Regions from separate parts of the Homo sapiens genome. Here all the other regions are reported to be linked to region 3. The links are microRNA targets in miRTarBase. Many come from high-throughput screens and were not tested one by one. Region 3 holds a microRNA gene; each other region holds the end of a gene's coding sequence.

Region 1 (4,367 bases), not on the chromosome of region 3:
GTGAGCCAGCTTTTCCTAGTTACTACCGTAGACTGTGGGGGGTCAGGCTGCCTGAATATTTCATAAAGTTATCAAACACATTTGCAGAATCCAAAGAGCTTTTGTATGAGCTAGAATACTGTCATTCCATCTGACAGACCACATTAGAATATTTGATAGGTTAAAAAAATGGAAGTGGTACAAACTAAGAAAATGCTAAAGTTCTGTTCATTTAGAACAGACTTAAGAGAGGAACCTAACAGTACAGCTCCACACTGAACTGTTTTCTCTTATTCTTACTAATGGTATCTAAGCTTTGGTTTACTCATTAGTTCAGTATGTTAATGCTAAAGTTAGTAATCCCTTAGACTTTAGTTTCCAGCTTTAACTTTTAAGACTAATTGTTTTTATTGTGCATATGTAAAATGGGATGCCTGTGAATTTAAAAAATTATTTTCATTTCTAAAAACATTAATAATCAACACGGTGATCAATACTGGGACAGAATACAGTGGGATTTTAAAAAAAAACACAATAATATTGAAACACTTCTAATGATAAGAGTGACTTCCAATAAAATCTAACATAACTTTATAAGGGGCCATTCCAGTTCTTAAAACTCTAATTAGACATAAAGCAAAATATTATTTAAAATTCCATTTTCTGACAGGATCAGAGTAAAAAAATCACTATGTGTCCTTGAGAACAGAAATAATAAAGTGACAGTTAAATATTACTATCAACAAAAAAATCTAGCTTTTACTATTTTTATAGATTTATCACTTATTTAAGTTAAAAATTAGTAAGAAGACTTGAAAAAGGCAATTTCTAGATTTATAGTAACTGTTCTATAATACAGCTTCAAAATAAGAACATGTACTTACATAAATATACTTAGCATACAGTTCTTTAAAGAATGTTGAAATGTTAATAGTGAGATCAATCAATGACAAGAAACTGTATCTTCCTCAGGAAAAAGAAACTAACCACTATACAATAAAGGCAATGACTGGAAACCCTAAATTACGTTTTGTTGTCAACAAAGTCAATTTAATTTAATAATTTAACTTTTCCACAGAATTAATCACTATTACTTCCATACCAAAGAGGTATCGGGGAAAGAGTAGATCTATGAGGATTTAAAATTATTTCCTATCTACTTCTTACTTTTAAGTTGTGGTGATTCATGGCTGTGATAAAGATTGTAATTTTCAAGAAACATACAAAAAATCCATGTTAAATAACAACAGTGGACCTTGAAGGCATGAGCTTTTGTCACTTTATTGTTAACCAATGAATATTATCCAAAATTAGAGATGTAATTGTAACTTAATTGTACAACACAAAATTATGCTAATGGTAAAAGCCTACTGGGATTTACCAAATACTCATTAGTGTATTTTTACATTGACTATATGAACATGTGCTCGCGACTGCTAATAAGTTATAATTGGTTTAATCTCTAAGAAATCCATATTGCAAATGGTTCTTGTTTAGAAAAATTCACACAGCCTTAAAAATGGATTAAATCCATTTTAATCCTAATCTACAAATAGATCATAAACAGCAAAATATAACTGATAATTTTTCAATACTGTATCAAACTGATGTAGCTATGGTAGTGCACATAATTCAAAATGAGGAAAATTAACAAAAATCCAATGAAAGTTCAGGTTTTTATCTATTATGCAATTGCTTTAAAGTGAACATTTATGTCTCAAAACATGAATAGTAGGGTCCACCATCCATTCCTTTGATGTACTGCAAGTAGGAATATTCTCTTCCATAGGATTCTGAAGCATGTGCACAACCATGGTACAACAGTCACTTCAAGGTTAACCAGCTATGTTTTGTCCTACAAAGTTCAAAAAATATATTAAACGCAACCTTTCTTTTACATAATGTCTGCCCAGATTAATCCTTTTAAAGTCAGCAAAATCAAAAAAGCACAAGAGATATTTTCAGACACAACTTGAATCTACTGTGCATGAAAATGTTTAATAAAATGGCAATTTTAATAGATAAATGTAAATTTGACTGTGTAATACCAAATGGAAAGTAGCTGAACCACACAGAGAAAACAAGGCTTTACGTATCTCCAAATTTAGCTGTTTTACAATAAACAAAGTATTAGAACATGTGAATATTAGAACCTCCTTCTAACTGGAAAGATTTCTTCAGTAAGCTATAACCGAAATTAATATAAACTAAAATTATAATTTCTAAAATAAGAATTAACAAACCAAATTTAAGTATTTTTAGTCAGAGATTGAAACAAAATAAGCACAGTGATCTAGAAACCAAATATACTGATTATGTAACTATCGTATCAAGGTACAGACATTCTTCACATGCTACAAGGTTAGCATTTCTCTCTCTCATACACACACAGAGTACACACACACACACACACACACACACACACAGTCTCTCTCTCATTCTCTCTCTCTCTTGCTCAGCCATACAACACCCCTCCAGGATGATAGTATACCAGTGAGGAGCTTACAATTTTAATACAAATCAGAATCCCACAGTTTGACTCGACAAAAAGGCAGTTAAAAATTTAGCACTCTTAAGATATTCTGAAGGAAAATGAAATTTCGAAAGTATTTCTTGATGATCGAGGCTATGGTTATGAATTATAAAACATATACCTTACACACTCCATTGTGTTTGAACAACCAGTCATCACAGATGTAGTAGTGAGGTAGTATTGTTGTCCCCTCCTCGGGACTGATGTTTTTATATGCTGCCCTTCCAGAAAAGGTCCAGGTTTTAAAAAATAACATTAGTTACCAACAAATGTATATTTTCTTTTTTTAACTAATCATTTGTTTTTCTAAATCAGTCTATAAAAGAACAAAACTTTTAAAATCTTGCAGAGGCTGTTTCATCAGTAAACTCTCCTAGGGAGCTACTACTGCTGTCTAAACCTCTGTGAAATGGTAGGCAAAAAAAGCCATCAAAGGATCACAGGAGATAAAACACCAATCAGTGTAAGCTGTTAAAGATGACTGTGATTAAATAACCAAATATCAAATATCCAATAAGGTAATTAAATTTAGATTAAAAAAAAACTAAGCACCAGCTGTACATACATTATTAAATGTTCTAATCTCTTTCCTGATTCATAGCCATATTCTACATGATGATCAAAGACTGTCCACTGTGCTACCTACCATCATTTTAAACACTGCCTGATCTGTATGATGGTGGAATTATGGCTATGGACATGGCAGATAAGAGAAGGGCACACTGAGAAAATGTGAGTGAGAGAGAATGTGGAAATAGGTTAAATATGGAAAGGGCAAGGGAAACCCATTAAAATGTTCACCATTATCCTTTAAAATGTACACAGAACTGAAACCACACATACACATTTGTCAGACGTGATAATTAGTGTTAATCTTCAACAGAAAAAAAAAAGAAAAAGAAAAAAAATGTGAAAAGAGGCAATGGAACACCATTCTCCATTCCCTGGACCAAAAGAAAAAAGAAAACCAAGCATGATATCATACTGCCTTAATGTTGAAGAGCTCCCCTTAAATTTGTCTTTTAGCTAGCACAGTCAAACTGGTGTAAGTGCTTTGGCAAGGTGGGATGCATTCCATCATATCTGCAAAGGCCTGCTTTTCTCTGTTGGTGGTTCAGCTTATGAAGAACATATATGCAAAATAACAGCTCTCACATTGCTTCAAACTCATCGATACGCTGCTTTGTATTGCCTTGTCGAATCTGTCGCAGAGTCTTGTACTTATCACGGCCTGCTTTAACATTCTCAGCATGAAGAACATCATTTTGTGTTTTCTTGGTTTCATCTCTGGCTTGGGCTAATTCTGAACTTAATGCCTATTTAAAAAATAAAAAGTACAACTATTATTTTTTTCTTAGATTTAAAAAAATTTATGAAAATGGCTTTAAGATGCAAAAATACATATACCAAATCATTTCCACTGTGAAACCTTTTTCTTTAGGTATAAGTTTGTTTTAGTAATAGTGGTGGCAGTGGTAAGGGAGGAATACACATGGCCTTTCCACATTTATCAACCATGGTATTTTGTACATTATTCTAAATTTCCTTAACTTTCTAATCTAATACTTGAAATGGCTAAAAAGTTCAATGTAGCCATTACAGACTAATATTACTATGAGATTTAAAATCTATACCTCAAGGGAAGCCTTCTCCAAAAGTCTTAATACATTTATTGTAACTATCACCTCATTTTCTTTTAATATTTAAAGATTTTAACAATTAAAATATTAGATAACTTATTGGGAAAAAAGAAAGCTCATAATATTAAAATCCTCTACTTTGACCTAGTTATGTCCATGTAATATACTGACCTTTTGCCAATATAAAATCTCAACAAATAATTAAGATTATGTAA
Region 2 (4,367 bases), not on the chromosome of region 3:
TTTTACACAAAAATGGAGAGCTTTCTGACTTGGTGATGGGCATGTGAATGTGTAGAGGCATGCATATATGCAATTTTACACCTTTTAGTAACGTATTAGCATGAAATAGGATGGAATTTGACACTTCCTGTTAATCTCCTTTGTGAGATGGCCACAGAATGCTTGAAAACTTGTTTCTCCTCCTATGCCTTCAGCACTGGCAGCATGCTATCATTTCATAGCTGCTCCTTAGGCTGCCAGTTTTTTGTTTGTTTGTTTGTTTGTTTTGAGAGGGAGTCTCGCTCTGTCCCCCAGGCTGGAGTGCAGTGGCGCGATCTCACTGCAAGCTCCGCCTCCCGGGTTCACACCATTCTCCTGCCTCAGGCTGCCAGTTTTGACCAAATTACTTCCATTGGCTGACTGCAGTGGCCTTGAGAAAATCATATTATTGATGAGTTGCCAGACAAGTTACTTTTATCACTCAAGGAACAACCAAATGTTGGAGTAATAAATCACAAGGAATACAAGGAATATTTGGGGTAAAAACTCCAAAAAGTTTGAGTTTTGAAAGACTTAATCAGTGGGAATAGATAAGAATGATATACTTTAACGCTTATGAGGAAGTCTTAAAAAAAGGATTCTACTAAAATGTTAGCCTTATTTCTGCTTTTTTCCCCCTTCTCTTTCTTTCATATTTTTTCTTTTTTCCAGGAGCATGGCCTGTTCTTATTGATGACTTTGTGGAATTTGCACGCCCTCAAATTGCTGGGACAAAAAGTACAACAGTGTAGCACTAAAGGAACCTTCTAGAATGTACATAGTCTGTACAATAAATACAACAGAAAATTGCACAGTCAATTTCTGCTGGCTGGACTGAACTGAAGATCAATCCTCACAATTCAGACTGAGGGTTGAGACAAAACTTTAAGGATACATCTTGGACCATATCGTATTTCATTCTTCTAATGGTGGTTTGGGCTTGTCTTCTAGTCTGGGCCGCTCTAAACATTTATAATTCCAACATTGTGGATTTCATCTTATATCTGTGGACCATCCTAGTTTATTCTCCCATAAGTCTTAGAAGCTTTATGGTGATTATTTTGAGGTTTTCATTCTCGCATAAAGCACAATGCTGTCTTCATCAGAAAACAGTTGGCATAAGAATTAAACATATGAACATCACAAAACAATTTATAAAAACTTCTTAAATATACGCTTTGGGCTAGTTGCAAAGACTATGCTAATAGCACTTCCAGTGAGAGTGATATATTTAAGTGTACTGGATCTGGAATGGTGTTTTGGTTTGGGGGGAATTTTTTTTTTTTCCTGGCAAATCACATGTGTTGTTGATGTGAGTATCTGATGAAAAAACAATGTCAGAATAACCGACATGAAAATTTTTTAGGATAACTTGGTGCCTACCTGAAAAATGTATTGTGTTTTAGACTCTTGATTTCAAAAGGTTCCACAGAACTAGTCTGCGCTTACCTTACCCATGTTTATATATAGCTGTCCTACAGGGAGCTTTTATTTAGAAAATGTCTGCATAATGTTAGATTCTTCTCCTGTCTACATTATGCACTACATAATTGGACTTCATTATGCTTTTGAAATGCTTATCTGCCTGTCACATAAGTTAAACTATTTAATTTGTTTTGAATGTTTTGGATTGCTACACAATACAATATTCTAAATTTAGGCATGAGGGTTTTTTTGTTTTGTTTTTACTTTTTTTTTGTCATCGCACTATGGAACACAAATGGAATTCTCTTAATTTATAAGAAGATAGTTGCAGTTAAATTTTGAAAATGGTTGTAATGAGCCATGAAGTTCAATCTTTATAATATAGGTACTGCTCTTTCAGACAAATAGTCCATTTTCGATGACTTATTATTTTGTTGAAATTGCTTTAACTGCTAATCACTGTGGTTGCCAAATATTTACTTCAGGAGCAAAGATTTTCAAACAAGCATACACGATGCAAAATACCAATCTGGCTTCTAGTCTCTTTACTGTTTTCGTTTCACTCAGATTAGCTCAGTTTTCTCATCAAAGCAGAATGCTATCTTGTATGTATTTTTTTCATTACAAGCCCCATGAGCTGCTTTTATGCTGAAAATGGTCATTTCCCTGTTCACTTACTGACATGTGAAGAAGGGTTTCTTGCTTTCTTAAACATTTCCGTAAGGCAGGCTAGAAATGTAATACTTCAAATGTTTGATGATTATGGTCTTTTGATAGGAATAGATTCTGCTTGGGATATATATCCAGGCACTCTCTAAGGTCTAGGGTTGATATTAACAAAGGAATGTACTTAGAATAGCAGTACATTTTATGCAAATATGGAAATTATTTTAAGAAACAATGACATATCAAAACTGCTTTTTACATGATTTTGAAATAGACTAGAAAGCTTTCCCTATAGACATATTAATATTCCAATCATAACTTTAATTCAAGAATGCAGTTTTACCAAAAGAAAAATTTGAAAATTTCTATTCAGGCTACTGGAATTGGTTATTAAAAGAAAAAGGAAAAAGAAGAATCTTGCTGCTTTCAGTATTTCCTGATTTTTTTGTAAATATAAAGAGGAACTTCAATTATGAAAAATTTTTAAAAGATATATATATCTATATATCTATATATATGTACTGTTTTGTTTCCTGTCTTGAAGATTTTGAGTTATGGTTATTGGTTTCAGATTGATTAATTCACATATGCTGTGTTTTGAAATGAGATCCCATTAGCTTTTTTTTTTTTTTTTTTTTTTCAATATAAAGTGTTTTCTTTAAAAGTCATATTGGTTCGTGGCCTAGTGCCTTGGATTTTACATATTTTTCTTTTTAAATGCAAAACCTTTTCAACAAAATAGTGTTTGTCATCAGGTTGGTACTAAACATTTATAATTACTGTGTAATTATAAACAAAAATACATAAAGCTTTGAATATAATTATGTAGCATAAAAGTTAAGGTTGTTCACTATGATGGCATCTTAGAATTAAACAAAACTTTTACTAGGGCTGAAAAGAGAAGACTGATTTAATGTGGTGTGATTATTCTGAAGATAAATGTCTGGCTACAGGGAATATTTTGTACTAAAAAATGATTACACATATGGCTGTGTGTGTTTGAGTCTGTGTCTGTGAGAGAGCCAGAGAGAGTGAGAGAGATTGACAGAGAAAGGGAGAGACACACACACGCCCCTTGAATTGCTTTAACTCCTAAGTGTTTCAGTCCTCATTCCGGTAAACTCCCCATGCTGATTCTTTGTTTTAAACTGAACCATAGGTACAGTTTCCTTTTTGCCAAATGTCAAAACAGGTACAAATTTTAAAATGTAATGCTTTTTAAATAGAAAAATGTATAAAATTAGAAGTGCCCACATATAAAAAATACTTGAGATGAAGATTATCTTTAGTGAATATCATCTGCATATCTCTGTAAGTTCAATTGTGTTTCTTACAGTCCCTGTCATATTACCAACAGAGGCAATAAAAGCTGCAGTGAAATTGCCATGACTAAATCTTTTCACATATTTCAGTGTATTTTTTTTATAGATTTAAAATATACCTGAAAACTTTTCTAGGAAGAATAATTATTCATGGAAAGAGCATTGTAATGGCATGTTTTGGGGAGAAAAGACATGCCAAGTCTTGTTTACTACATTTAAGATGTTTACAACTATACTGGGCTGCTTTATTAACAATACTGTACTTGCATAATATGGCATTATAAGTACATGTCCTTCCTTAGACTTTTAAAAAGTTTTAATGAGAGAAAGTAAATTTACTCAACAAAATAACATGAGAAATCCTTTACGTAATATCTTTACTGGGGAATTCTTATTTAAGCAAGGTACACTATTTTTTCCTCAGACTTAAATGAATGAAGTGTTCATTTATTTTTTATTTGATGATAATCAAGAAGTGAGTAGTAGTAGCTAACTTAATGTACACTTTGCTTAGGTTTTTAAACATGTTACTATTAAGACTACGTATTGTAAACCTTCTGTAATTTTCACATATGAATGACAGGAGAAAGTTAAACCTAATCGAAGGAGTTTTGGAATAAAAAAGTGGTGCTGGGGAAATTCACCATGGTTCACAAAGTATGCCTTTGTAAAACTGAATCAACTTTTAGCAAGAATTAATTTATGTAGTTTTAAATGTTAAATTGTGTATATTTAACAGAAAATACTTATCTGGCACCTCAGCAGTTTTAATGTTACCTTATACTTTTAACAGTATGATTTATATTGAATACTTAGATGTTTTCATAAGATTTTATCAAATTTGATAATGTAATGATAAAATGTTTTTTTAAATGTGAACTATTTAACATATAAATGGGGACACAAAACCTGAATTGTGATTTCTACATAATGTGA
Region 3 (4,000 bases):
TATTATTTATTCCTGCTTCTCTTTGCTAGTGGGCTGTAAGGTCGTTGAACATGAGGGACCACATCTTATTCAGCACCTTGCGCAGAACCTAATAAGTGCTCAAAAATGACATGCAGTGAATGAGATGATTGGATGGCCGCTTACCGCTGTTGGCTCAGCCCAGACATTTTTTTATTAATATATCTCTATGACTGTGCCCTTGACACTCTCTTCTATATTTCTAGATGCTTAGTAAAAGAAATAGATACTTTCATAATTTATTTTTAGGAAATAATAACTGCATTGTGAAAAAAGTCATCTAGGAAACTTTTCTGCCCCCACCCTTGTAGGTAGGACAACCATTTTTATTCTTTGTGCCCTCTCAGAACCACATACATACTTTCATCATCTTCATCATATACTTGAACCATTTATTGAACTCATTTGTTTGTTTTTCTAATGTATAGTAAGCTTTTGGAGAGAAGGCATTGCATCTAGTTCATCTCTACATCCTTAGTACTCAGAGGGTATTTGTTGACAAATGGACTGAGTGTATCCCTTTCTTAGACTGAGACATTATTATTTTTTTAGAATGAAGAACCTTCCCATTACTTAAAATACTTTGTTTTTAAATGGAACTACATTGCTTAGAATAGTTTAAAAGATGTTTTGTTTTTTATGTTCATGTATAGTATATAATCTGTTGCATGAATATTTTACTTACATATTTTATGGGATATGTGTTTTCAGTAGATATATTTTTATAGGAGATACATTTTTAAATACCTACAAAAATCCCAGTACTGTGAAGTATCTGTGTCATTAAGTGTAATAAAACATATTACAGTAACAGTAATCTGCTGAATGCTTCCTATTACCCTGCAGGGACCCTAGAGATTGAAAGCTTTATTTTGGAAAAGTCATCTTTATGGTAATAATGTAAATGGATGTATTAAGTAACAGAGCACTTATAAAGAGATCCTTGTCTAAAGGCTTGGTATGTAGGGCAGAAAACCATGCTTCACTCAGAAGGCCACTGGCTGTGGTGGAAACTTGCTGTTTCTTCATGGAGTTGATAACAAATATTTTTTCATGTTATTTTTTCTCACATTTATTTTTCAAAGTAAAAACATTTATTTTTCATATTTGTAGAATTCTTCTATTTATAAAAGTAATTTCTACTTATGAAGAGAGCAGAAATAAGAGGAACTCTCACTACCCAGAAATAACCATTGTTAAATTTGTTGTGTGTAATTCCCTACATGTATACATGCATTATATATATGTATTCACGTGATGATACTCGTTCCCCCATATTTTCCAAAATGAGGTCATAGAACAGGTGCTGAGTTTTGATCTGCTTCCTTTTTTTTTTAATTTAATAATGACATTCTTTGCCCAAAGGAGTAATAAAACCTATTTTTATCTAAAATCTCTGGAGAACAAAACATTTTACCTAATAGTTTTCAAGTTAGGTAAGGGTTTTCATACTCATATTTTAAACTTTTTAGCTTTTCATAAAAAATCTTTTAAGATGTGGCACACTCTAGTGGTTATGAGACTTTGGGTTTTATTGAACAGTGTAGGGAAAAGAGCAAGAGGGGATTTTAGAAAGTAAGGTACAGCAATAAAATTTCATAAAATATGTCTTAATGTGTACTATCCCTTTCATTTCATAAAGGAGAGGACCGATTCTAGCACCATACATGAAGGAAGAGTATAATCTCAGAATGCCAGGCTGCCATTCAGGAAGTACCAGCATGCTGTCTCAGATAAGCGGTTCTGAGGAACTGCAGTCTATGGTTTATGCACTTACTGAGTTACCGTGGTGTCATGGGCAGGGTGAATGCACCTGAGGTGGTGCAGGACGCCAAATAGTGTAACTAGAAGTCCCAGAGGAGGCTAAAGCCTTCTTGACTAAACTGCGACCCTGGTGCTGTGTGGGTAGCTCCTTTCCTGCCTCACTTCCTCCTTTTCCTTCCCTCGTGGCATTCTCAGCTTTCCATATGCCCTTTCTGGGTCCTGGTTGCTCCTGTTCCCTCCCCTGTTGCTCCTGATACTCACCTCTTCTTGTCTTTTCTCTCTTTCTCCCTCTACTTTTTCAATTCTCATGGTTTTCTCTGTAGAGAAAAGCTGATCTTTTAAGACACAGTGGTCTTTTTGTATGAAGTATGTAAATGCCTTTGACTACTACATACATATGCCTACATATGAAAGTAGTAGTAGGCATATGTATGTAGTAGTCAAAGGCATTTATTAATTTAGTTGTTCAATATATATTTACTGCTGTGTCTCTAGGCAACAGAGATGCAAGGCCAAGCCAAACCTCCTCCCTTGGGAATTCTCAGGACAGTGGCAGTTACTTTGGGTCTTTAGCACTTATGGCAGGTGTCAGTGCTGCTCCGGCTCCTTGTGTTGCCATCTGGGTACTGTTTAAACCTTATTGTGGACTGTGGATTTCTTTGGGTGAAAGTCTGTTTTTCTCACCCTTCTATCTGTTGAGTGCTGTGCAGTGTCTTGTACAGAATAGATTTATTTTCCTGTCTATTTCTGGAGAGGGGCTTTTTTTGAAGATCTGATCAATGATTGGAGTCAAACTCTTTAGTCCCACATGTGATCCATTGTAAACTAACTGGCAAATGTTTCATATTTCCCCTCTAATACATAACAAAAACAGTTTAAGTCTGAAAAGTGGTATAAATGGAACGGAACATGACATTCCTGTAGCCATTTTTTTAATACAGATTATATCCCTGATTAATAACAAAATTGCCAGTCTTTTTAAATATAAAATTACAACAACCATATAGAATCACACACCTCCAACCTCTGCTGATCTTGATCTTAGTACATGAGGCTTGGGTTGCGATTAGATTTATTGTGGCAGGAGGTTTTGTGTTTGAGGAACTAAAGGACTTTCTAGTAAACATAGATGCAGGAGAGCAAATTTGTGAGTAAATACCTTAAAGTCTTTATATAAGTTTTTTGTAGTTAAAGTCACTAACACAGAACAATAATAACAGTACAATAAATACAGAGAATGTACGTGGCATTTTAGATATCAAGTTGGTAATAATGGCTGCTGTGCGATTAATTTGATGAAAGAGGACAGTGATGATCCTGATTGGAAGATTGATAGCTCTTGGGTGGGGTGGGGATGGGGAGAGGCACTCCACTTGCTTTTCTTAAGGACTTGCTCAAAGTAAGTCTGTGTCTCTAAGTGGAGAGCTTTATCAATTGATTTCTTTTTAACATTTGATATATGTCCAGTATGTTCTGCCAAATGCAGGTTGCCAACCAGTAAGTTACAGAAATGGCTCCATGGTTCTGCAGTGCTCTGGCTGCCTAAATTGAACATTATGTATCTGTGTTGTTCTGATGGAATTAGAATCCTGCAGGTGCTTGTGGCCATGGGAGAAAGTGTGTGGCAGCACCTCTGGCACGGAGAGTTACTTCCTGCAAGAAGTCCAAGCTGAAAATGGATCCCCGCTGGGCCACATTTCTGGTGCCACTTCATTGAGCACTTTCTGTGTAGCAGCAGTTTCCTGGTGTTACTGCTGAATTGTTTCAGGGGTAATTTCCTGTGAGTTCAGTATGCATAGTAACAATAAAGAATTTTCATATTGCTATGTGATTAATGTTTATTAAGTATAAAATTTCACAGTTGTGTAAAAATATGCAAAATTTATAACTAATTCATTTTTGAGCAAGGACACATGATTGGGGTGGGATTACTATTTAATAAAAATGCTACTCTATTATTTATTGTAAGTCTTTTACAAGTGTACAGAAATCAGTGACGTGGCCAATAATACCAGTTTTTCTTTCCTGTGTCACTGGGTAGTCTAAAGGCATAGTGAGGTGTTTAGTAACTTCATAGTTTAGTAACTGTGAAGCCAGGCTGCCTCAGTTTGAATCCTACCTCCTCTAACTATTGGCTGTATGACATTGGGCAACTATTTAACATCTCTCTACCTCTGTTTCCTCATCTGTAAAATGGGGGTAGCTGTGAGAACTGGAT

What was found. Region 3 holds the annotated microRNA hsa-miR-7852-3p (UAUGUAGUAGUCAAAGGCAUUU, at 2,155-2,176, opposite strand). A microRNA usually pairs through its seed, bases 2 to 8, with sites in the 3' UTR of a target mRNA and lowers its output. Matches are read on the target gene's strand: a 7mer-m8 pairs with bases 2 to 8, a 7mer-A1 pairs with bases 2 to 7 and ends in A, and an 8mer does both.
Region 1: miRTarBase lists RDX as a target of hsa-miR-7852-3p. Seed matches in the 3' UTR shown: 7mer-m8 at 2,674-2,680.
Region 2: miRTarBase lists DCUN1D1 as a target of hsa-miR-7852-3p. Seed matches in the 3' UTR shown: 8mer at 1,560-1,567, 7mer-m8 at 3,640-3,646 and 7mer-A1 at 4,355-4,361.

The regions. Positions count from the first base shown.
Region 1 is chr11:110,228,206-110,232,572 of GRCh38, forward strand. It overlaps RDX (radixin), which reads right to left. Exons shown (of 14, transcript NM_002906.4): 14 at 1,236-3,828. The coding sequence ends at 3,664. Among named protein-coding and RNA genes, the nearest start is that of RDX, 66 kb to the right of the region's middle.
Region 2 is chr3:182,941,497-182,945,863 of GRCh38, reverse strand. It overlaps DCUN1D1 (defective in cullin neddylation 1 domain containing 1), which reads left to right. Exons shown (of 7, transcript NM_020640.4): 7 at 691-4,367. The coding sequence ends at 770. Among named protein-coding and RNA genes, the nearest start is that of DCUN1D1, 37 kb to the left of the region's middle.
Region 3 is chr1:107,895,458-107,899,457 of GRCh38, reverse strand. It overlaps MIR7852 (microRNA 7852), which reads right to left and starts at 2,235; the gene lies at 2,154-2,235. All of the region lies in intron 1 of VAV3 (vav guanine nucleotide exchange factor 3), which reads left to right.